7 linked regions of the Homo sapiens genome follow. The protein of the gene in region 3 interacts with the protein of the main gene of each other region in a biochemical or structural test. Each region holds a gene or a part of one and is shown on either strand. Other genes may lie near its edges.

The links.
Region 1: the proteins of TMEM178B (region 3) and APBA1 interact in a test that uses a peptide from one of them, tested with the Homo sapiens proteins (one large-scale study listed by IntAct).
Region 2: the proteins of TMEM178B (region 3) and GOPC interact in a test that uses a peptide from one of them, tested with the Homo sapiens proteins (one large-scale study listed by IntAct).
Region 4: the proteins of TMEM178B (region 3) and SYNJ2BP interact in a test that uses a peptide from one of them, tested with the Homo sapiens proteins (one large-scale study listed by IntAct).
Region 5: the proteins of TMEM178B (region 3) and DLG5 interact in a test that uses a peptide from one of them, tested with the Homo sapiens proteins (one large-scale study listed by IntAct).
Region 6: the proteins of TMEM178B (region 3) and PATJ interact in a test that uses a peptide from one of them, tested with the Homo sapiens proteins (one large-scale study listed by IntAct).
Region 7: the proteins of TMEM178B (region 3) and DLG3 interact in a test that uses a peptide from one of them, tested with the Homo sapiens proteins (one large-scale study listed by IntAct).

What each region holds. Positions count from the first base shown.
Region 1 is NC_000009.12:69,427,032-69,429,201, forward strand, and holds the end of APBA1 (amyloid-beta A4 precursor protein-binding family A member 1), read right to left. Parts: 3' UTR 501-2,170; downstream 1-500. UniProt on the Homo sapiens protein: Putative function in synaptic vesicle exocytosis by binding to Munc18-1, an essential component of the synaptic vesicle exocytotic machinery. May modulate processing of the amyloid-beta precursor protein (APP) and hence formation of APP-beta.
Region 2 is NC_000006.12:117,562,141-117,564,511, forward strand, and holds part of GOPC (Golgi-associated PDZ and coiled-coil motif-containing protein), read right to left. Parts: intron 1,245-2,371; coding exon 1,114-1,244; 3' UTR 1-1,113.
Region 3 is NC_000007.14:141,077,064-141,080,563, reverse strand, and holds part of TMEM178B (transmembrane protein 178B precursor), read right to left. Parts: intron 1-3,500.
Region 4 is NC_000014.9:70,372,091-70,375,590, forward strand, and holds part of SYNJ2BP (synaptojanin-2-binding protein), read right to left. Parts: intron 1,042-3,500; coding exon 901-1,041; 3' UTR 1-900. Other genes in the region: SYNJ2BP-COX16 protein, read right to left, coding at 943-1,041. UniProt on the Homo sapiens protein: Regulates endocytosis of activin type 2 receptor kinases through the Ral/RALBP1-dependent pathway and may be involved in suppression of activin-induced signal transduction.
Region 5 is NC_000010.11:77,920,256-77,923,755, forward strand, and holds part of DLG5 (disks large homolog 5), read right to left. Parts: intron 1-3,500. UniProt on the Homo sapiens protein: Acts as a regulator of the Hippo signaling pathway.
Region 6 is NC_000001.11:61,759,480-61,762,979, reverse strand, and holds part of PATJ (inaD-like protein), read right to left. Parts: intron 123-3,500; 5' UTR 88-122; coding exon 66-87; intron 1-65.
Region 7 is NC_000023.11:70,489,835-70,493,334, reverse strand, and holds part of DLG3 (disks large homolog 3), read right to left. Parts: intron 1,229-3,500; coding exon 1,052-1,228; intron 815-1,051; coding exon 739-814; intron 1-738. UniProt on the Homo sapiens protein: Required for learning most likely through its role in synaptic plasticity following NMDA receptor signaling.

The sequences.
Region 1 (2,170 bases), on a different chromosome or scaffold from region 3:
CCCCGGCAGCAGGGAGGGCATGCCTGGCAACCTTCAAAAAGTGAATTTCCAAAGAGCACCAGGAGGAAACCTTCCAGAACCTTCTCACAGAACCTTTGGATGGGCCTCTCAGGGCGCTGTTTTCCACCGTCCACTTAGATCTTAGTCCCTTACAAAAAGGTACCTCCCTTACGGGAGATGACTGAGGTGGGGGAGAATTAATTCCTGTTTTCCTGCCCTCATGGAGGATGTCAAGTAAGAAATCCGGAGAATTTCTCTTTCTCCAGTTCAGTGTGCTCAAAGGAGACCCACAGGACTGGAGGATCAACTGGGACAGGAGAACAGAGCCTTTCTTGTCTAAAACCAAGTCAGTTCCACAGAATAAAAGCTCATTTAGAGAACTCCTGGGCTCTGGGCGCCTATAGGGTGGGTAGGAGCTAGTCAGTCAGTCTGTTAGGGAAAAGACAAACTCATCACATGATCCCAAGCCTTCCCTGCAACAAGAAGACACTTGGCCAGGCCAAGAGGTGAAGTTCTTGTTTATTGTTGCAGCAACTCTTATACAGACATTAGCGTTCAGTTAAATAAAGGAAGATAGATAGCACAGTAAATACATCACAACCCCAAACTGGATGACTGTGGCCACGGGACGGAGGAGGGAGGGAGGGAGGGACCAGTGACCAGACTGTCAAGGAAGTACATTCAGTGGGTGTGCGGTGTCCACATTCCAGGCTCACGTGTAGATATATTTTATTTATATATTTATTTATATTTATATATAGATCATTGAGTTTTGTGTATACAAAGAACGATATTGTTACAAATACAATACTATACTTCTCCCGACACTTTACAATAAGCTCTATTTCACCCTCTTTACAGAACAATAGTACAAGTTCATACTCTAGGTGCTGTGCTAAGTATGTACAAGAAATGTCATTCCCACACAGTCCTCACACACTGCCTTGATGGAGGGGAAGAAAGATCGAGTTGTGTGCTCAAGTCAACCTAGGCCAGGGAAGGAGACACATGAAACTCAAACCAACAGGTGGCCTGTGAATGCGAGTAAACACATCTAAGGAGGGGCGGCCCCTGGTTGTAAACATTGGTAACGGCTACACCACTGGGTCGAGGGACCCGGGAAGGGCTCTGTAGATGGTTTTCATCTGTGTGCGGGAGGTGTTGGTGCCCACAGGGTGAGGGGGGCAGAGGAGCGATGGGGGAGGTAGTAGGTTACTCTGGGACTCCCTGAAGGCGGTGTTGATGGGCAATGTTCAGAAAGCAAACCCGTGCACAGGGACCCGGCACCCCTGCCATGCACTCCTAGGAGCCTGCTCTGGCGAGGGAAGGTGTCGCTGGAGAAGTGGGCTCCAGGCATTGGTCTTTGGGGGTTTCTTCCTCTCATGAACCCAAGGCTGATGGTGGCTCCCTGAAATGCTCACACTGGAGAAAAGGCAGGATGGGTTCTGGTGCCTCTGCCTGGACCAGGAGGGGGAGGTGAACGTGGGAGTCCAACCCCAAAGCTGAGCCACCAGCACACCCTGGTGGAGCAGCCACAGCAGCTCTGTGCCCTCACAGCGTTTGGGAAGGCTGCCCTGTACATAGCCTTCCCATTACATGGGGTATTTAGATATTTACATGTATAACTATATATACTGGGATGACAGAAGGGAAGACCACCACTTCTCTTGGGACTTTCAAAAAATCTAGCGACTTGCTTTTAAGACTGTGGCTGCTGAGGTGACCATACCTAGGCTCACTCCCTTGCCCCAGTGGTAGTGGGAAAAAGAACCCACTTCAGCTGGGTGGACCTGTACCGAGCTCCAGCAACTTCCACTCACTGGGTGTGAAGACACACCTGGATTAACACAAAAGAATGTGGCAGAGAAATCTTCTCACTCTAATGTTACAATGTCAGTCCTCTAGGAGAGCTTGCAGAATTGGCTTTTTCAGCACCTCTCAAAGTTTACAAGGTTTTTGTGCAATAGGAATAGAAAGTATATTCTCTCCTTTAGGTGAACATACATAACCGTTATGTGCAGGTTGTACAGGGATGCACTACTGGAGTTCTGTCCCCTGGCCAGTCGTGGGCGGGCCTCTGTGGCACTGCCCAGGTGCCTAGGGACAGACAGGCATGGGCCCCTACGATGATTTTCCAAGGCTCCTGATGCCTGAAATACCACCAGTAACA
Region 2 (2,371 bases), on a different chromosome or scaffold from region 3:
GGACAACAGACCTAACAAATTTATAAACCTGCATATGAAGAGAGCTTTAGTCAAACATAAACTGACATGAAAACCCAACCAAAACAATTACTGTATCAAAATGTCTTTATCTCATCTTGCCCACCTTTTAGATGACTGGAAATCATTTACTTAGAAAGAAAACTGCCGTTTGATTTGAATGTACTGTGTTTCATGACATAGTAATAAATCTGAACTTTTACTACCAGAAAAATTTGTCTTTAAGTGCCAGGACTATCACAAGACAAACTTTATGAACAACTCAAAATGTATAAAACTGTCTTTTGTGGACCCCAGAAAACAAGCATTTGAGGCTCAACATGAATGGGTAAATGCTCCAGTACTGCGCACACAGATCAACATAATTGAGAACAGATGTTTTACACTCATCTGCATTTCTTTTAAAAAACAAAAAAAGTAAAATGTTTAGTAACTTTTGAGAATCTATTTCTAGTGCAGCATTGATTGATAAAAGACTGCTTAAAGAAAACTATTTTGTACTGCATTGAATAAAGCTGAAATGCAAACTCATTACAATAAATGATCATTAATAATTGGTTTAGATTTTAGGATGCACAATAAATTTTTTTAAGTCTAAAGCCTTTCAGTTACAAAAATTAAGTCAAGCCTATATTTCTACAATTCATTGAGTCAAGCTCTGTCTTCTGAAATACCACAGTTAACATTCTAGAATATAAAATATGAATTCACTTACTCTCTGTATTTTAAAGGGTACTCCTTATAAAATTCCAGTTAGCACTGTCCTCCTACTAAAGGGAAAAGGAACCAAGTAAAACAGTAGGGTTTCATTTGGTACTTAAGAGCCCAGTAATACCCCTTTGGGAAACACATGCTTTGGTGCTTACAAGTTCAAGAAAATCAAAATTGCTTTACATGCAATAGCTAATTATGGTCTACCACAGAAAACAGGGTGTTTTATGCATTGAGAATTGTTCACATGAAGCCCTGAGGTACCCGCCTTTCATTTAGGCAACAAACAGCCTCCCCTGATTTTGTAGTCTTTGTCACCATCTTCCCCAGTGCCCCAAATTCAGAATAGTCTGATTAACAATCTTGTCTGGAGATATGGTCAATTTAATAAGATTTTTTATGATACAGAGTGTGCAGATCATCTAATTTTGAAGCACCGTCATCTAGCGGAGTTTCACTTGCAGTGCCCAGGTCTCCATTTTCATGTGTGTCAGTTACTGCCTTCTTATTAAATCCTGAAAGAAAGGAGAAAAAAAAAGCAGACACTTTCTGGTTTAAAAAGTTGGTTTTGGTCAGGTGCAGTGGCTCATACCTGTAATCCCAGCACTTTGAGAGGCCAAGGTGGGTGGATAACCTGAGGTTAGGGGTTCGAGACCAGCCTGGACAATGTGGTGAAACCCCGTCTCTATTAAAAATACAAAAATTCGCCGGGCATGGTGGCACATGCCTGTAATCCCAGCTATTTGGGAGACTGAGGAAGGAGAATCACTTGAAGCCAGGAAGTGGAGGTTGCAGTGAGCTGAGATCGTACCACCGCACTCTAGCCTGGGTGACAGAGTGAAACTCTGTCTCGATTAAAAAAATTAAAAAAAAAAAAAAAGTTAGTTGTATAAGTTTATTGAGTGAAAAACAAAGGAATGCCCAAGTAATTAACATTAGTAATCTGAGGCAAAAATAATGCCTTATATTAATCAAATCAGTAATTCCTAACAGGGGAATTCTTCCCTCTTATGGCAGGTATCAAATATTGTACAGATTTAAAAATACTATATTGGGCTTATGTAAAAATTGTATTAAGTTTCCTATCAAGTTTTCCTTTCCTTTTTTTTTTTTCTTTTTTTTTTCTGAGACAGGGTCTCACTCTATTGCCCAGGCTGGATTGCAGTGGCATGATTACGGCTCACTGCTGCCTTGACCTCCTAGGCTCAAGCAATCCTTCCACCTCAGCCTCCTGAGTAGCTGGAGCTACAAGCATGTGCCACCATGTCCAGCTATATTTTAAAAATTTTTTTGAAGAGACAGGGTTCACTATGTTGCCCAGGTTGGTAACTCCTGGCCTCAAGCGATCCTCCTGCCTTGGCCTCCCAAAGTGCTTGAATTACAGGCATGAGCCACCATCAAGCTGTCTGTAAGACTTAGAAGTAATACATATAATTGTAAAATTCAGTCAATTCTACTTATATAAATATCTACTGAACTGTGAATTATATTTTTATTTTTCATTGTTGCTTTCATATTACATTAACTTCAGTTAACTGAGGCATATACTAGTTAATTGCTTAAAATGTAATTTGTTGGCAAGATGATGTCTAGCTAAAACTTAAAACGAATTCTGATCATCTATAAAATAAATAATAGGCTT
Region 3 (3,500 bases):
ACTGCAACCTCCGCTTCCTGGATTCAAGCCATTCTCCTGCCTCAGCCTCTCGAGTAGCTGGGATTACAGGCATGCGCCACCACACCCAGCTAATTTTTGTATTTTCTGTAGACACAGGGTTTCAACCATGTTGGCCAGGATGGTCTCAATCTCTTGACCTCGTAATCCGCCCTCCTCAGCCTCCCAAAATTCTGGGATTACAGGCGTGCGCCACCGTGCCCAGCCGTGGAGTATTTATTTATTGTCCGTCTCTCCCCTCTGGAATGTAAGCTTCTCCATTTGGTCCAACACTGTACCTGATGCACAGCCCAAAGGCCCTCAATAAATACTTGTTGAATGAATGAATGTGTCCTTCATGTCTATAATTTCAGCATCTACCACAGCAAGCGAAGTAAATAAGCAAAAGTTATATGACAAAATGTGTATGCACTTTGGTCAGTGAGCTTCAAAACAGGGTGTGTGAGCCACTCTCATTACTTCAATTTAGAATTGAGATTCCAAGAGTATTATTTCCTTTTTATTCTCAATTTGTGGAATCAATATCCCAGTTTCTTCTCCACCTCACTCCTGCCCCGATAGATTCTAAGATGATGGTAGAGTGTGGTGGGTGAGTTCCCACATCCAGAGCCAGAATTCAAATTCTGACACCTTTGTTTCCTAACTAACTGTGAGAATTCACAAGTTATCTGACCTTTCTGTGCCTCAGTTCCCTCAAATTTAGGATGAGAATTTAAAATAATACTTATACTTCCTAGGGTTATTATGAACAATAAATTAGCTAATACATATAAAACTTTTAGGAGAGACCTGTCATCAAGATTGGCTATAATTATCATTAATCTCTTTCCCACCCCACCAACTTTGCAAGTGATGTTTAATGGAGATGGAGAGGGCAGGAGGGAAGAAGGGAGAAGCTTGTGAGAATTCTGTGAGTTGATGATAGAAAATTAAAATATAAATTTACTATAATTGACCATGAACTAAAGCCTTCTGCCCAATATATTCAAGTAGCAGTTTCTTAAAGTGTAGAATGATATACTTAAATTTAAACCCAAGTTATCATGGAATTATACTCATCTGAAACAAAGTTATGTGCTTGGTTCTTTTAGAGGCTATAGGCTCTGCGTGGCGCTGTCCAACAGAATTTTCTCCGATGGTGGGAATGTTCACTGTAATCTGCACTGTCCCATACAATAGCCAGTAGGCACATACGGCTACTGAACATTTGAAATGTGGCCAATACAACTACGGAAATAATTTTTGTTTGTTTGTTTTTTGAGACAGAGTCTCGCTCTGTCACCCAGGCTGGAGTGCAACGGCATGATACCAGATCACCGCAACCTCTACCTCCTAGGTTCAAGCGATTCTCCTGCCTCAGCCTCCTGAGTAGCTGGCATTACAGACACACACCACCATGCCCAGCTAATTTTTGTATTTTTACTAGAGATGGGTTTTCACCATGTTGGCGAGGCTGGTCTCGAACTCCTGAACTCAAGTGATTCACCTGCCTCGGCCTCCCAAAGTGCTGGGATTACAGGCGTGAACCACTGTGCCCAGCCTATTTTATTTAACTTTGGTTATTGTTAACTTGAACAGCCACATGTGGGTTGTGGCTCCCCAACTGGGCAGCATAGCTGTAGGGGATTTGATATACGAGCTCCCTGACTTGGTCCATGGCTGCTCTCCAGCTCCTGGTCTGCTCCTTCTCCTTGCCCCAGAAATCAACACTCACAAGGCCAAACTGCTGTTCCACACCTCTATGGCTGTGCATATGCTGGCCCATTGCCTGAAATATCCTTCCTCCACATCCACCTCCAAACCTTATCAAACATCTTGTTCAGATTTCATTTCCTCAGGACAACTTTCCCTAACCTCCTCCTGCCTACCTCCCGCTACTGCCGACACAATCCACCATCACTTTCTCTGTGTTCCTCTGCATCTGTTTCTGTTGCTGCTCTCATCATCCTGTAGTTGTAACCTATTTTCTCTGACACTAACAGACTATGCAAATTCTGAGGACCAGATCTTATGCATTTCTTCATCCTAGCGATGTGTGCCCATAACACAATACATGTGTAGTAAATATTTGCTGATCCCATTATTAATTTTTAAATATGTGAATGTTTTCTTAAAATTACTTTTGGAGTATTGACAACCACTCTGTGATTATGGGAACTCTTTAAGTCAAAGTCTATTATAAGGCCAATTTTCAAATAATAAAAAGTTCTTAGAGTATCAGTTGAAGTTCTACTTATTTCAAACTATATCAATATAATATTTTAGTACAAACCAAATAATATAATTTTCCCCTTAGAGTTCCCTAGAACAAAATCCTACCTATAACTCCTCCTCCTAAGGGTCTGGAAGTCTCTTGGATTTCAGAAACTGATCTTGTCACTGATCTGTCCCCAGTGCCTGCAGTCACTTACTAGGGAGACATGGATGAGATTTAAAAGCAAGAAGACAAAAGGACCTGATTTAAGACTTGTCATGGATGCCAACAAATGGGAATTCAGGGTAATCTACCCTTGCTGTACCCTATATCCAATCTTACCCCCAAGAAGGAAATAATTAAAACCTTATCCATCATAAAAAATAATGTCCACAAGTGATATGTGTCTGCTTAGTGACATGTTATCCAAAACAGAATTGTCTGTTTTCCTTATTCTTTGGCAAAGCTCAAGAAATCGTCCCTTCATAGATTATGTAGCATTTGTTGCAATATTGACCTGGCCTGACAGCCACACTGTTTCATATTTTCCCATCACGATTTTCTAATTTTTTACTTAAATTCTCACACAAGTGTTTCTATAATTAGAATAAGCTTGGATGGATACATTTCTGTGAACCTAATTTGTATGAAATATTTCCCAAATACCAAGCATCTGGTGAATGTATTTAACAAATGATGGTCTTTCCTGACCTCTAGGAACTTACAGTTTAATAATGCAAACAAATGAATACACAGTGATGAGAAATGCATACGTGTGGGTACAGCATGGCAGAAGGTCCTGGAGGGGAATGGATTTCAGAATGAATATGAATCCAGAGGACTTTACCTTCAAATCAGACATAGATTTGATGTTCGTTTTCTTATTAATTATGTGGTTTTATGTTGAAATGCACAAATAGCACTTTCTAATGTAATGAACATCGATTTAACAAATAACTAAGTTCTTTAGATCATTTAGATAAGTCTCTAATTTTCCTATATATTAACGGATTTTAAAGTCTTTTCTCTGGTTTTCTTTTTCCCTTGCCCATTACATATCTTCCAGAATTTTAATCAAAGTAGATATTTCAAAGAAGACAGAGGTCTGAGATCTCTTTTGCGGTTTCTAATGAATAATGTGAGATAAACATCTTTTTCTAAAATGTCTCATTTAAATATAGGGATATCAGTTTCTCTTTTTAACTTCCTTATAAAATCTGCCCATCTAAGAGGAACACTAAGTGTAAAAATTGTGTTCTATATGTTATTGGAATTGCTTGTGAATTCT
Region 4 (3,500 bases), on a different chromosome or scaffold from region 3:
AATATTGTTCTTCTAAGATTTTTAATTAGTTGCTTCAGTTATTACATTTTTTTCTATTTTTTTTTTAAATAGAGATGAGGTTTTGCTATGTTGCCCAGGCTGGTCTCCTGGACTCAAGCAATCTCCCACTTCAGGCTACCAAAGTGCTGGGATTTACAGGCATGAGCCACCTCTCCCAGTCTCAGTTATTATTTTAATAAATGAGACTGAACGTCCTCTTATAAGGCTCACTCCCTTGTTCCTACTACATTTGCTCTGTTTAAGTATCTCTTTAAATTCTTCAGTTAAGATCATCCCTTTTATCAGAAACCTAGACACCACAAAGTAGCTTTCTCACCTTTAATTCTCCATAGGGATCACTATTATACTATAATATTTGCATACGTATGTGTATATATGTATTTGCTTTTTTAAAAAAGTAAAAATGCTCTTCTCACTCTTTGTCGATATAGGCACCCAGGTACGTAGTTAGAAATTAAATAAAGGCCACAATAATTTCCCAAGGAAGATCATTAAAAAGAAAAATCCTTTCTTCCTCTAATATCACATAGCTGGCCTTTATGGCATGCCAGCTAAGAAAAAAGGTATTGCCTATGGTGACAGGAAGACTCAATCTTTCTCTCTTTGGGTTGTAGCTGAATTTCTATCAAAAGTCCTAGTAAAATATATAACTCCTCATTTGTTCTAAGCCAAGTCTTTTCTTCAGTTTTCCTTCAAACAATACCTTTACTTTCCCATTAGAATATGAAGAATTGGAGACTGTGAACAGCAAGGTTTGGGGTGGGTATCAGTCACTTCAAATCTGGCTATGCAGAGAGAGGGAAAGACATGGCAGAATAGCAGGGGTGGAGGGTGAGTGAAATGTATCTTCATTGGGAGTATTGAAAGAGAGCAAGTTTTTCAAAGTTGTTGCCGGTATCTCATGAAAGCCCAGGCTGCTACCATGGTGAGGGCAAACACTGGCACCAGCACCATAAATATGGGAATACCACTTGGGTCCCCTTCACCTCGATGTCCTATAGGTCCATTCTGCACCTGTAACTGGAAGGGAAAGAAAAATGTTAACTCTAGTGACTAATGTGTGTTTGCAACTGAAACGCCCAGGTTGATACATCACCTGGGTTTGTAGACTCTAGACCACCCAAAACTGTAACCCCCAGCAATACCTAGCAGAAGGAGTCCTCTCTTTGTCCTGAGCTGATGCATCAGTGTCACAGGATCTTTGGAAAGAAAATAGGTCTAATGGGGAGGCATTTAACCTTGCTGACCTAAAGGGACCCGTGAGGGCAAGTCAGGTAATTTCTGTTTCTGTACTGCCTCTACCTTGCTATTTGTGTATCGTATCAGGAAAATGAAGACATGAGATAAAACCTATGATCTTATAGGGAACTTGGATATTACTTGGTGAGGAAGAAGGGGGATCTTTCTGGAAATGTTTACTTAGATAATCAGTCATCAAAATGTAGTAAGAGCAGATGTGGGCAATGTCAACATAGGTGCAATACCAACATACGTCCAATGCCATTACTTGAAAAATGCTTTCCAGATCCCAGAAGGCACCCAACTCCCTCCAAAGATGGGGTTTTGCCCTTCATCTGCTCATTTCTAATACTAGAGAGAGATGAAGGTGAATCTATATGGAACAGATGTAAAAAAGCAAAAAGAAATTATATCCTAGTGCTTATAATTTTCTATTGGCTAAGTGTTTCCTTTTGAGGCTGGATGGTCTTCATTTTAGTGATGGTTTTCAGGGTAGCTCTTCTTAATATCAACTTTTAGTGGCTAACTTGCAATAATTATGGCATCATCGTATTTCAGTTAAACTGCCTCATTACAACTCATAAAACTGACACTTCAATCTGAAAGGCAAGACTGCATGAAATACCATTATACCCTCTATTCCACCTCTATGTTTTTCATTCATTTGCTGATGAGCTGTCCTGAAAGGACATGCTCAATAAGAAGGCATGGTTTTTAGGGCTAGGCCAATTGCCTGAACATAAGGGTCTTTTTTATTAGGAATTATTTATGGATGTTTCCTTAAAAGTGAACACTGGAAATAACTTCTCACATACCTTCCAAAAGAATTGTAATCATATTGAAGTGTGTCCCTATATTTACTTGTTTTTATCTACTGCACAAATGCTCCCATGCTTTAGAAAGAGAAGAGCCAAGGCAGAAGCAACTGATGACCAATATTATCTCTTATTAACCTGTTTTCTAATCCATTACACCCAGATTCTGCTTGCAACTGGTTGTTTTCTCAGGTATCTTTCACGTTCTGCCTTCTCTACTTTTTTAGGAACTCCTCTAAATGTTCTTAAGCTTCTAAATCCTTAGCCACTGAGTGAGGAAGAGTGCACCTATTTAAGAAGTAGCAAATTGATTTAATTTAAAGGCACATGGAACCTGTTTTGTGAATATGCTCAGAAATTCTCAATGCTATAGGAGGAATTATATCTACCCAGGCTTCCCTTTACATCATCATCCAAATTATAAAACACTTGGAAATAAGAAACAGATGCAGGGATAGGTGCTGCCTTGACTGAATTCTGAATTCCATTTCCTTTTTCCTGGAGTTCTCCTATGAACACTAAAGATTTGGTTAAGAGGGTCACCAAGTTGATAAATGAAGGGTTCATGGCAGTGACAGGGAAAAGCATATAGTGGGTACCAGAAAACCCACCATCTTTGTAGTGTTTTATCCAATGGTTTTATAAATAAGTTTTCAGCGGTAGACATATGGTTCCTTCCCTACCAAAAAGTAAAATTGGCTACGTTTTTTTACCATCTTTTTAATTAATTAATTTATTTATTTTCCATTGGTCCATGTCACTCTTAAAATTTTTTATTTATTTTTATTATTATTTTTTTAAGAGATGAGGTCTCTCTATGTTGCCCAGGCTGGTCTTGAACTCCCGGGCTCAAGCAATCATACCACCTTGGCCTCCCAAAGTGCTAAGAGTACAGATGTGAGTCACCACACCTGGCTTTTCTTTAATCATCTGTTTTAATTTGGTTGTCAAGCTTTATCTTTAAGGCATATTATCTTGAAGCAAGGACCTTGGTTATAAGCCATACTGTTGTGAATTTCTCTTTTTTTTCTCTTTTTTTCTTTTTTTTTTTTTTGAGACAGGGTCTCACTCTCTTGCCCAGGCTGGAGTATAGTGGTATGATCTTGGCTCACTGCAACCTCTACCTCCTGGGCTCAAGCAATCCTCCCACCTTAGCATCCCAAGTAGCTGAGACTACAGGTGTGCACCACCGTGCCTGAATTTTTTGTATTTTTAGTAGAGATGAGGTTTTGCTATGTTGGCCAGGCTGGTCTCGAACTCCTGGCCTGAAGTGATCCGCCCACCTTGGCCTCCCAAAGTGTTGGGATTACAGGTGTGAGCCACCGTGCCTGGCCTGAATGTCCTTCAATGATAAGCAGAAGTACCAATGGACCCCTCCCTTTGCCTGAGAAACTCTTCAGGGGAGTGAGGGTAAAACAAAAAGCA
Region 5 (3,500 bases), on a different chromosome or scaffold from region 3:
GTGAAGTAGTTAGTGTTTTAATTACTTTGTAGAGGAGATAAGCTCAGAAGGGTTAAAAACCTTGCTCAAGGTCTAAAACCTTGTAAGGTCTGATCATTACTACCTAGACCCACCATCCCACTCCAGCAATGACCGCCTGTGCTAACTGTATTATCGCACAAAGGTGGTAATGCTTGGAGTGGACATTCATCTGCTCTTTTACCTGCGTGACATCGCTGCTGCTTGTCTTCCTTTAGACAACTGCTCTGCCTCCCTCTAAAAACCCACATAGTGTTGGAATGGGCTGCCAATCACAGTAGCCCATCACCTTACCCTGGGGTTCCACTGCTGGGCACAGTGCCAAAGCTGAGCCAGTCTTAGTCCTCTAGCCCTGGCCACAGTGACCGGGCCTCATGTGGACACATAACACTGGCCAGACCAATCAGAATCCTACCATGAGGTTTGTCTGCCTGGGCTGATTGGATAGAGCTCCCTTTCTTCCCTGGTCAGGGGCTGTGAACCTGAACAGAGGGGCCTGAGGTCATGTTCAGACCCGTGGGAAAAGCCCACAGCATCGATCCAAGAGGTCAAACGTCCCAAAGGCCAGTTTCCACCATCCATCCAAAGGTTGTGGAATATTCTAAGTCAATACATTTCTCTTTTTCTACCTAAGATGATCTGAGCTAAGTTTCTGTCATTTTGCAATAAAGGTACCCTGAAATGATACACAGATAAAATCTGCCCTTCACTTAAAAACCTCTTCTCAACCATTAATTTCAAATGACTCTGCCACTTCCTCTTAAATAACACAATTAAAACCACCTAAATTAGCCATGCAGGGTGGCATGCGCCTGTAATCTTAGCTACTAAGGAGGCTGAGGCAGGAGGATGGCTTGAGCCCAGGAGTTTGAGGCTGCAGTGAGCTATGATTGCACCACTGCACTCCACTGTCTCTAAAAAATAAGTAAATAAACAAACAAAAGAACCAAAAGAAAAACCACAACAGCTGGAGCTTTTACTTATGTCCCTTGCCCTGCTGACCCTCCAGGGCAGAGGGGATGAAGAAAAGGTGGCTGGTACCCGAAGGAAGTGGAGAGAGAACAAAAGGCCAGGCAACCTCTGCTGAATAATAAATAACCCACACCTGACAATCAGCACCCATCTGCATTAGTCCCACTAGAAAAGCCTGGCAGGGTTATTCCCTTGGGGAAAAAAAACAAACTTCCAGCTCTAATTTCTGACAGTGTACAATGCCTAAATTCAAACCTCCCACTCAGCCTAGCCATTAAGGTCCTCCAGATTACCTCTGCATCCCCAATTCCCTTCCACCCAGAGCCAAGGCCAAACCCCTGCTCTGCTCAGGCTGGGTAAACACATGGCTCCTCTCTATGGCTCAGCCTGTGCGGTCCAGCCTACGCAGCCCACACGTCCTCCCTCCATGGCTCCATGCATTCAGAGCTTCACTTCAACACCAAGTCCCAGCACATTCGTGAAGCTCTCCTCGGCTTCTCCAGCGGACGCTGCTGGCTCCATTCTCTTAAGTTTGATGAAGCAAGCCAGCCAGTTCACTAGGAAAGTAAAGAGGAGGCACAGGAGGTGTGGGGAGTGGGAACGAGAAGGAAACATCAGGCAATGAGCACGCGAGAGGTCCAGCCAAGTTCTGCCATTTCTGCCTCCCAATAGAGGCCTGGTGGGAATGACTTGAGGAGTCCCACATTTAGATGGTAATGAGAGCCACTAAAGGTGAATGAGAGTATCTGGGGAAAGTGTGTAGCATACCGAGTTTTTTATAAAAGAAAAAGCCTGTTTGTGCATCTCTATCAGTTGACCTGTCTCATAATGTCACTCTCATGAGCGTCCCATTCCCCCAACAAGGCGGCAAGCTACGGACTAGAATTACATCCTGTGCACCCCGGCCCCTGTCTACACCCCAGCCCCACCTGGGCCAGGCACTTCAATGCTCCCGGTGACAGAGGCAGGCAGTGCAGCACCATTAGCCCCATCTTACAGATGAAGATACTGAGGCTCACCCCAGGGGCAGGGAGTTGAGAATCCTCAAGGGAAAAAACTCAGGTGTTTCCCCAAATCAAAGGGAAAAAACAAAGGACTGCATGGGGCTCCAAGTGACCAAGCTAGACTTGGTTACTGGGAAAAACAAGAGACCCAACTGAGCCACTCAGAAGTAAACAATTCTGTCTTCTCCCTACCACCAGCTGGGGCAAAGGTGTTCGCTTGTTCCCCGCAGATCCATGTATCAAATCCGGGACAAAAGAAAGCTACATAATTTCAGAGTCCCACAGTGACTGGAAATGTCCTGAAATTGTAGTGGGAAGGCCTAACCAGGGAACAGGAAAAACCACCCCAGACAAGGAATCAGGGGCACTGGGCTTGGCCTTGACTCAGGCACCTTTCTGCCCTGCGACTTCTTCCTTACAGACAGGGCCCTGGAACCAAAGATCATAAGACACCACTCATCTCCCTGGGGCTGCCACAGAGTTAATGAGATATGAAGATAGGACACAAAATCCTGAATGACAATGCCCTATCAATACCGGAATAAGAGCCACACCTCCAACAAAAAAACCACAACACAGTGTGTCTCCTAGTCACTCCACACCCCCAGGCCTGAGCGTGGTAGGTTTAAATGTCTGGGGATCTAACTCAGCAAGAGTTGCCCCGATGGGTTGGGTTTGCTCACCTGCCCACCAACACCCAGGCACATGTCCTCCCCAGTTTCCTTCCAGTTCCAGGCCCCACGTGGTAGGCTGCTGCCGATGCAGACTCCCTCAGCACCCAAGTGCCAGTGGGGGATGGGCATTCTGGATCAGGAGCCCACACAGGGTGTGGAATCCATCAAGGAAGCTCCTAGGTGGGTGATGGCATCATCTCCAACAGAGAATCGGTGCCAAAGCAGCCACCCCTTGACGCTAAGGATCCCAGGGAGCCAGCTGGTTCCTCTCTCAGGCTCCGCAATGGCCTCGAACTGAGGCCAATTCAAACCCAGAGCTGCTGCCCAGAGCACAGAGTGGAAATCACTCAGGAGTGGAAGGAGGCAGGACCAAGTGCTGGGTTTTCCTGACTATGGCTCCTCAAGGAAGAAGACTTCCATTCCTTCAGCCAGAGCCGCTCTCTTATGCACTGAGCTTTGACCATAAGGAATACTTCCTGGCTAAAAGAAAAAAAAGCAAAAAAGTGGAGACCTACAACACAGCAATTTACCCTTCACAAAGGAGCCTCCCCTGCGCCGGGGCAGTGGCTCACGCCTGTAATCCCAACACTTTTGGGAGGCTGAGGCAAGCAGATCGCTTGAGCTCAGGAGTTCGAGACCATCCTAGACAACATGGAGAAATGCCATCTCTACACAATATACAAAAATTAGCTGGTGTGGTGGCATGTGCCTGTGGTCCCAGCTACTTGCGGGGCTGAGGCAGGAGGATGGCTTGAGACCAGGAGGCGGAGGCTGCAGTGAGCCGAGATTGTGCCACTGCACTCCAGCCTGGGTGACACAGTGAGACCCTGTC
Region 6 (3,500 bases), on a different chromosome or scaffold from region 3:
AAGTCCCATTTGAGATTCCATTTTTAAATAATTAATTTAATTATAGAACAATATATCCAGTATACCTGTAGCAGGATTTTCAGGCATTTTGAATTATTCTCTTCAATCACTCTTAAAGACACCTAAAGAAAAAATTTAACAATATAAAAGATGAATTTCAATTGTATATGGCTACAATCCTGTAGAAAAATTAAGGAAAACCTCAAGAACATTCTTTATCAAGGCTCCACTCAGTGAAATTCAAAATTATAACCACAATGAGGTGCCACTACACACCCACTAAGGTAACTAAAATTTAAAAACAGACAACACTAAGTTTCAACGAGGCTGTGAAGTGCCTGGAACTATTATTGTACATTGCTAAGAGAAACGTAAAATATCACAACCACTTCGGAAAATTGGTAGTTTCTTATAAAGTTAAAAATACACTTACTATATGACCCAGCACTTCCACTCACAAATACTTACTCAGTATTCATGAAAATATATGCTCACAAAAACGCCTGCACATGAAAGTTTACAGCATTTTTATTTACAAAAACCCCAAAACTAGAAAAACCCAAGTGTCTAGTAACAGATGAATAAACAAATGGTATATAATATTCAGAAATAAAAAGGAAAAATTACTGATACACACAACAAGGATAAATCTCAAAAATGATATGTGGAAAAAAAGAAACCTGACCCAAAAAAGGCACAAACCATACTGTATGATTACATTCATATGAAGTTCAAGTACTGACAAAACTAATCTACAATTATAGATTAATTTACCTGGGGCAGGGTCATAGGGAACTGACTATGACAGGCTTCAGAACATGCTACTCCCAAAATATGACACCTTGGCATTGTTGAATATTTTAAGTTGAAGGAATCTGAGAAACAGCAGGTGCAAAAAAGACTTCCCCTGAAGCAGATCATAGGATCCTCATGTGAGAGGTGTCCTCTCTATACCCAGAAGATAGCAGCATCTTAATCTCAAAAGACAGAGTGGCCGGGCGCATTGACTCATGCCTATAATCCCAGCACTTTGGGAGGCCGAGGCAGGAGGATCACTTCTGCCCCAGAGTTTGAGGCCAGCCTGGGCAACACAGTGAGATTCCATCTCTACAAAAAAAATTCAAAAATCAGCCACCCATGGTGGCACATACCCATAGTCCCAGCTGCTCAGGAGGCTGAGGCAGGAGGATCACTTGAGCCCAAGAGGTTGAGGCTGCAGTGAGCTATGATCATGCCACTGCACTCCAGCCTGGGGAACAGAGTGAGACCCTGTCTCAAAAATTAAAAAAAAAAAAAATAGAGGAACACCCAGAGGAATATGAACAAACAGGCCTTGTTAAGTTTTTCCCTGTTTACTACTCTTGGCTCATATCCCTTTCTGTCCTATCACATTCCACAACTCTTCCTTCTTCATCAAACCTAATTTAAAAACACTCAGGTTTTACTGTTTCTTCGGGTCTTCCTTTCCTTATGAAGGCTCCCATGTCACATAAAACTTATATTAAACAAGTTTACATGTTTTTCTCTTGTTAATCTACCCTTTATTACAGGGGCCCCAACCGAAAACTTAGAAGGGTAGAGGCTATTTTCCCTCCCCTACACTGGGAAGGGGTTCAAGGAAGCTTTTTTGGAGTGATGGACACATTGTGTCTTGAAGGGGGTATGGTTTACACAGATGTATATACTTATCAAAATTTATTGAACCAGGCCAGGAGCAGTGGCTCACTGTGATCCCAGTACTTTAGGAGGCCAAGGCAGAAGGATCACTTGAATCCAGGAGTTTGAGACCAGCCTGTGCAACAAAGTGAAACCTCATCTCTACAAAAACAAAAAAATTAGCTGGTGTGGTGGCTTGTACCTGTAATCCCAGCTACACTGGAGACTGAGGTGAGAGGATCGCTTGAGCCCAGGAGGTTGAGGTTACAGTGAGCCATGATCATGCCACTGCACTCCAGCCTGGGTGACAAAGGGAGACCCCATCTCAACAAAAAATAAAAGAAAAATTCCCAAGCTGTACAAATGATCTCAGACTCTTACTAGTCATCTACAGCTTGAAAGAAACCACCCAGGCTGGGCGCCACGGCTCACACCTGTAATCCCACACTTGGAGAGATCGAGGTGGGTGGATCACCTGAGGTCAGGAATTCGAGACCAGCCTGGCCAACACAGAGAAACCCCGTCTCTAATAAAAATACAAAAATTAGGCGTGGTGGCACTCACCCATAATTCCAGCTACTCGGGAGGCTGAGGCAGGAGAATTGCTTGAACCTGGGAGGTGGAGGTTGCAGTGAGCTGAGCTCATGCCACTGCACTCCAGCCTAGGCAATAAAGCCAGACTCTGTCTCAAAAAAAAAAAAAAAGAAAAAGAAAAAGAAAAGAAAAAAGAAACCACTCAAAGTGGCATTCTCTATGGATAATGTTTTCTTAATTCCAGTGATTTGATGAAATTAATCTAAAATGTAACGTAATTAAAAACTCAAAAGGCTAGCAAAACCCTTTGCTATGACCAAAATGAGACATTTTCAGTGATCATTTTTACTAGTGATACACACTTGTAATGAACCATCAAAGAAATACAAGTATTATACAATCAAAATTTTCTTACATCAACCTGGATATGGTGGCTGAATGACATCTTTATCTTCTAATTCAAGATCATTAAGCAAAAAAACATATTGAAAACCAATAACGGATGCCATTGACATTGATAAAAGGTCTAAGTATTCCATCCAAATGTTCACTGGATTCAATGGGAATACCAAAAGAAGTGCTGAATAGAGCATCAAAAAAACACTTCTGATGTGCTCAGCATCTCAACTGTACAACTCTTACAACTACCCAGTGACAGGTAACTGTGAATAACAAAAGGGCAGTCATGACAGCACTGTACTCTCATATAGCAGCATACAGCCCAACAGGATTGACAAGAGCGGCCTGCTGGTCATTAACACATCAACCTCTCTAAATCGAAGAATGCAAACTAAAACAATAAGATGACATTTTTTTACTGCCAAATCTCAACTGACATTTATTGATTTATTAGAGATTAATAATAGTTTATACTCCAAATGTCATGAAAAAATAGGTGGAAATAAAAATTTACACAATGTATACTGACACTGCTAAGTTGTCCTAAGAGTGTACAATTTTTACTTCTGAGTGTCACTCTGAAAGAAAAACTGGCAAAGGGGGACAAAGATGTGTGTGCAAGGGTATTTACCACATTTTTAATAGCAAAACTCCTGGAAAAAGTAAATTATCAAAAGCGATCAGCCCGGGCGCTGTGGCTCACGCCAGTAATCCCACCACTTTGGGAGGCCAAGGTAGGCGGATCACTTGAGGTCAGGAGCTCGAGACCAGCCTGAACAACATGGTGAAACCTTGTGTACTAAAAACACAAAAATTTGCTGGGCGTGGTGGCAGACGCCTATAATCCCAGCTACTTGGGAGGCTGAGGCAAGAGAATCACTTGAACGCAGGAGGTGGAGGTTTCAGTGAGC
Region 7 (3,500 bases), on a different chromosome or scaffold from region 3:
AAAAAAAACAGAACAATGGATTTTAAAGCATGCAAGAAAAACTAAAATGGAGACAACGGTGAGCTAAATAAAAGACCATCTCTCACAAATGGAGTCTATGAGATTAAATGAAAGTTGATGTAAGAGGAAAATTATGTTTACAAGAAAATGTTGTAGGGATGTTAGAAGTTTCTACATAATCCAGACACTCATAACACTCACTGGTACTTCCTAAAGAACAAAGGTCACTGTAGCCTCCTGGACACATGCCCTAAGGTACCACTGATATACACATCTACTCCACGTCTCTCTTCCCTCTACTGCTCCAGAAGTTCTTTGGCCTGTGAAGCTCATAGAAAAAAAGGGGTGAATGGAGAACCCGCCTGCCTCAGGTGGTCTGAAGGGAGGTGGGAGCTCTGGAGCTGGGCTTCTTGGCCGGATGCTCTGACAGGATCTATAGCCAGGGAGACACCCACGAGTGGTTTCATTTTCCCCAAGCAAGTCAGCCTTCCAGACAGTCCAACTCTAACACATCTTCAAGAGCCGGTACCCAGGGGAAAGGAGCACAGACTGGCTGTGAACTTTAAGAGCTCCCTCTCTGCTTTCTGAAAAGCAGTCAATGTTCTGATAGGACAGAGCCAGCCCCCTGAAAAAGAGATTTTCTTTTGTGTTCCCCAGTTCTCCTACACATCAGACTAAACTCCAGGCTTCTCAACCCTCTTTACCTACTGGCTGATTTCCTTGGGGATCCCCACTTACCCTGTTAGACTCAATCATCCCCGTCCTGGCATGGAACTTCACAGTTTTCAATCGAGCTCTTTCTTTCTTTTCCACCCTGTTTTGGAATCAGAAAGAAGTCCTGTTACTGCCAGTAAATGGTCTCAGCAGTGGGTTGCAGCAGGCACAGCAGCCATTTTTTTGGCTCACTGAGTAAAAACCATGTTGAGTACCGACTCTACCAAAAAGGAATCAAGGCACAAACGTTGCTCTCAAGCAACTTCTAATAGGAAAACAAGAAAGAAATACCAGCAAGAGGGCAGGAAAGGCCTTGCTCATGATCATGACGACTCACCTCTTCTTACTGGGGATCACACCGATCTGCTCACTTTCTCCGTGTGGGGTCACCAGCCTTGCCTGCCACCACTCATCATCAGAGGCATTAATGACATGCAGAATGTCACCATAAGAGAAGCTGAGCCCCTGGCTTGGCAGGCAGCTGTCCCGAGTCCGATCATAATCAAACAGGGCCCTGAAAGGCACAGTGAAAGATGAAGTGATCATCCAACCCTAAATGCCAAGACACTGGCACCTTGAAAAGATGGAAGGCCAACCCAAACAGCACAGACATAGCAGCCTCACAGTATACTAGAAGGATGTCTCCAGGAGACCACATCCTTCTTTCTGAGCCAAAGTGGTAAATATGCACCCGCTTTCAAAGAAACATCTCATTCTCCCAATAAGAAGCATAAGAGAAAATATTTTACAAACCCCATCTCCTCTTGGCTTCTGGATGCAAGATAAAAGTCCAAAGTAGAACTCGCTCAATAGCCCTCTCCCTCACCCACATCCTAGGAAACTAGCTCTAGCAGGGCGCTTTCTCAGTTCACAAACATATCTTCAAAAAGTAGCTAAAGAGAGGACAAAAAATGTTAACTACAATCCCAAACAATGACTGGTAAACACTCCTGAAGCACTAAAGAAAGGGCCCTATGTCCTCGGGCAGCCAAAGAAAAAGCACAGAATGGTAGGGTTGAAAAGACCAATGGGACCATAGAAGTCACCTAGTGCGGTCTCTTTCTCTTACATATGGGGAAACAGAGGTTCAGGGAGGAAAAAATAGTTTGACCTAGGTCATACATCTAACCAACCTGGGACAAAACCCAGGTCTTCTGACAAGACATGCTGTTGTGACATGCTATAAATGATGCAGAGTAAAGAAATAAAAGGGAAGGTGGGAGAAGGTGGGGAGGGAGCTATACAATCCAGGCTTATGGAAAAGGACACCAGCTTGGCTGATGCTAGAAGTCCTAGGAAATGGTATTGGAAATAAAGGTCTGAAGCAAATTTTGGAAGCCCTTGAATAGACAAGATCTAGTGGCCCCTGGAAATCTGAGAGGAGTGACACATCAAAAGAGCCTTAGGAGGTCGGGCGCAGAGGCTCACGCCTGTAATCCCAGCACTTTGGGAGGCTGAGGCGGGTGGATCACCTGAGGTCAGGAGTTCAAGAGCAGCCTGGCCAATATGGTGAAACCCCATCTCTACTAAAACTACAAAAATTAGCTGGGTGTGATGTTGCATGCCTGCAGTCCCAGCTACTCGGGAGGCTGAGGCAGGAGAATCACTTGAACTTGAGAGGTGGAGGTTACAGTGAGCCAAGATTACGACACTGCACCCCAGCCTAAGCGACAGAGCAAGACTCTGTCTCAAAAAAAAAAAGCCAAAAAAAAAGTTTCTACTTTTCACATCCAGTGGAACCTGTCTTCATATGGAGTCACCACAAATGGGTGATTTCAGTGAGAAGTTTGTATTTTTCTACCTGCAATCTAGGCTGTCTTCTTCATATTCTCTGTTAATAAGGTGTTTTCACACCTTTGCACACACAGCCCAAAATCTAGTTCCAAGACTTTGACTTCTACCTGCAATACTGTGGCCTTTGGCTCAGTTGGAAGCTGCAAGTAAAACACACTATCTTACCATATGCAAGCCCAAATGAGATAGGATGTAGTAAAACCATGAAGAGTGAAATACTCACCTACTGCTTACAGCTCTTGAAACAGAGTTCTTAAAAATCAGCGTCAGATGATTTGAAAATGAAAATACCCAAACTCTAACAAAAAGCCCTTTTTTCCCCTCAATTTACACACTCAAAGCAGTAAGGAGAATGGCAGAGGCAGCAGACAAGGAGGTGCTGTCCGAGAGGTGCATTCCGGGCTATGTGTGACAGAATCAAAACTGAATGCATTCTCACTGCCTGAGTCCTGCATTTCCTAAAGCAAGGAAGACATTCTGTCAGCCACTCCTACTAAGAAGAGCATCATGAAGCAACCTCATTCTCAGTGACAATGAGAAACACTGGATGTCATTATGGGTTTCAAAGATTAGAACAAATATAGTAAGGAAAAGAACAGAACTTGAATTAAGCACAAATTAGTTTGGTGAGAGAAGGAAGGAAGATGTTAAAATGAATTTAGGAGGCCGGGCGCGGTGGCTCACGTCTGTAATCCTAACAATTTGGGAGGCTGAGGCAGGCAGATCACTTGAGGTCAGGAGTTCGAGACCAGCCTGGCCAACATGGCAAAACCCCGTCTCTGCTAAAAATACAAAAATTGGCCGGGCATGGTAGCGGGCACCTGTAATTTCAGCTACTCGGGAGGCTGAGGCAGGAGAATTGCTTCAACCTGGGAGGCAGAGGTTGCAGTGAGCCGAGATTGCGCCACTGCACTCCAGCCTGGGTGACAGAGCGAGACTCTGTCTAAAAAATAAATAATAAATAAATAAAATAAAATGAATTAGGGGAGTTA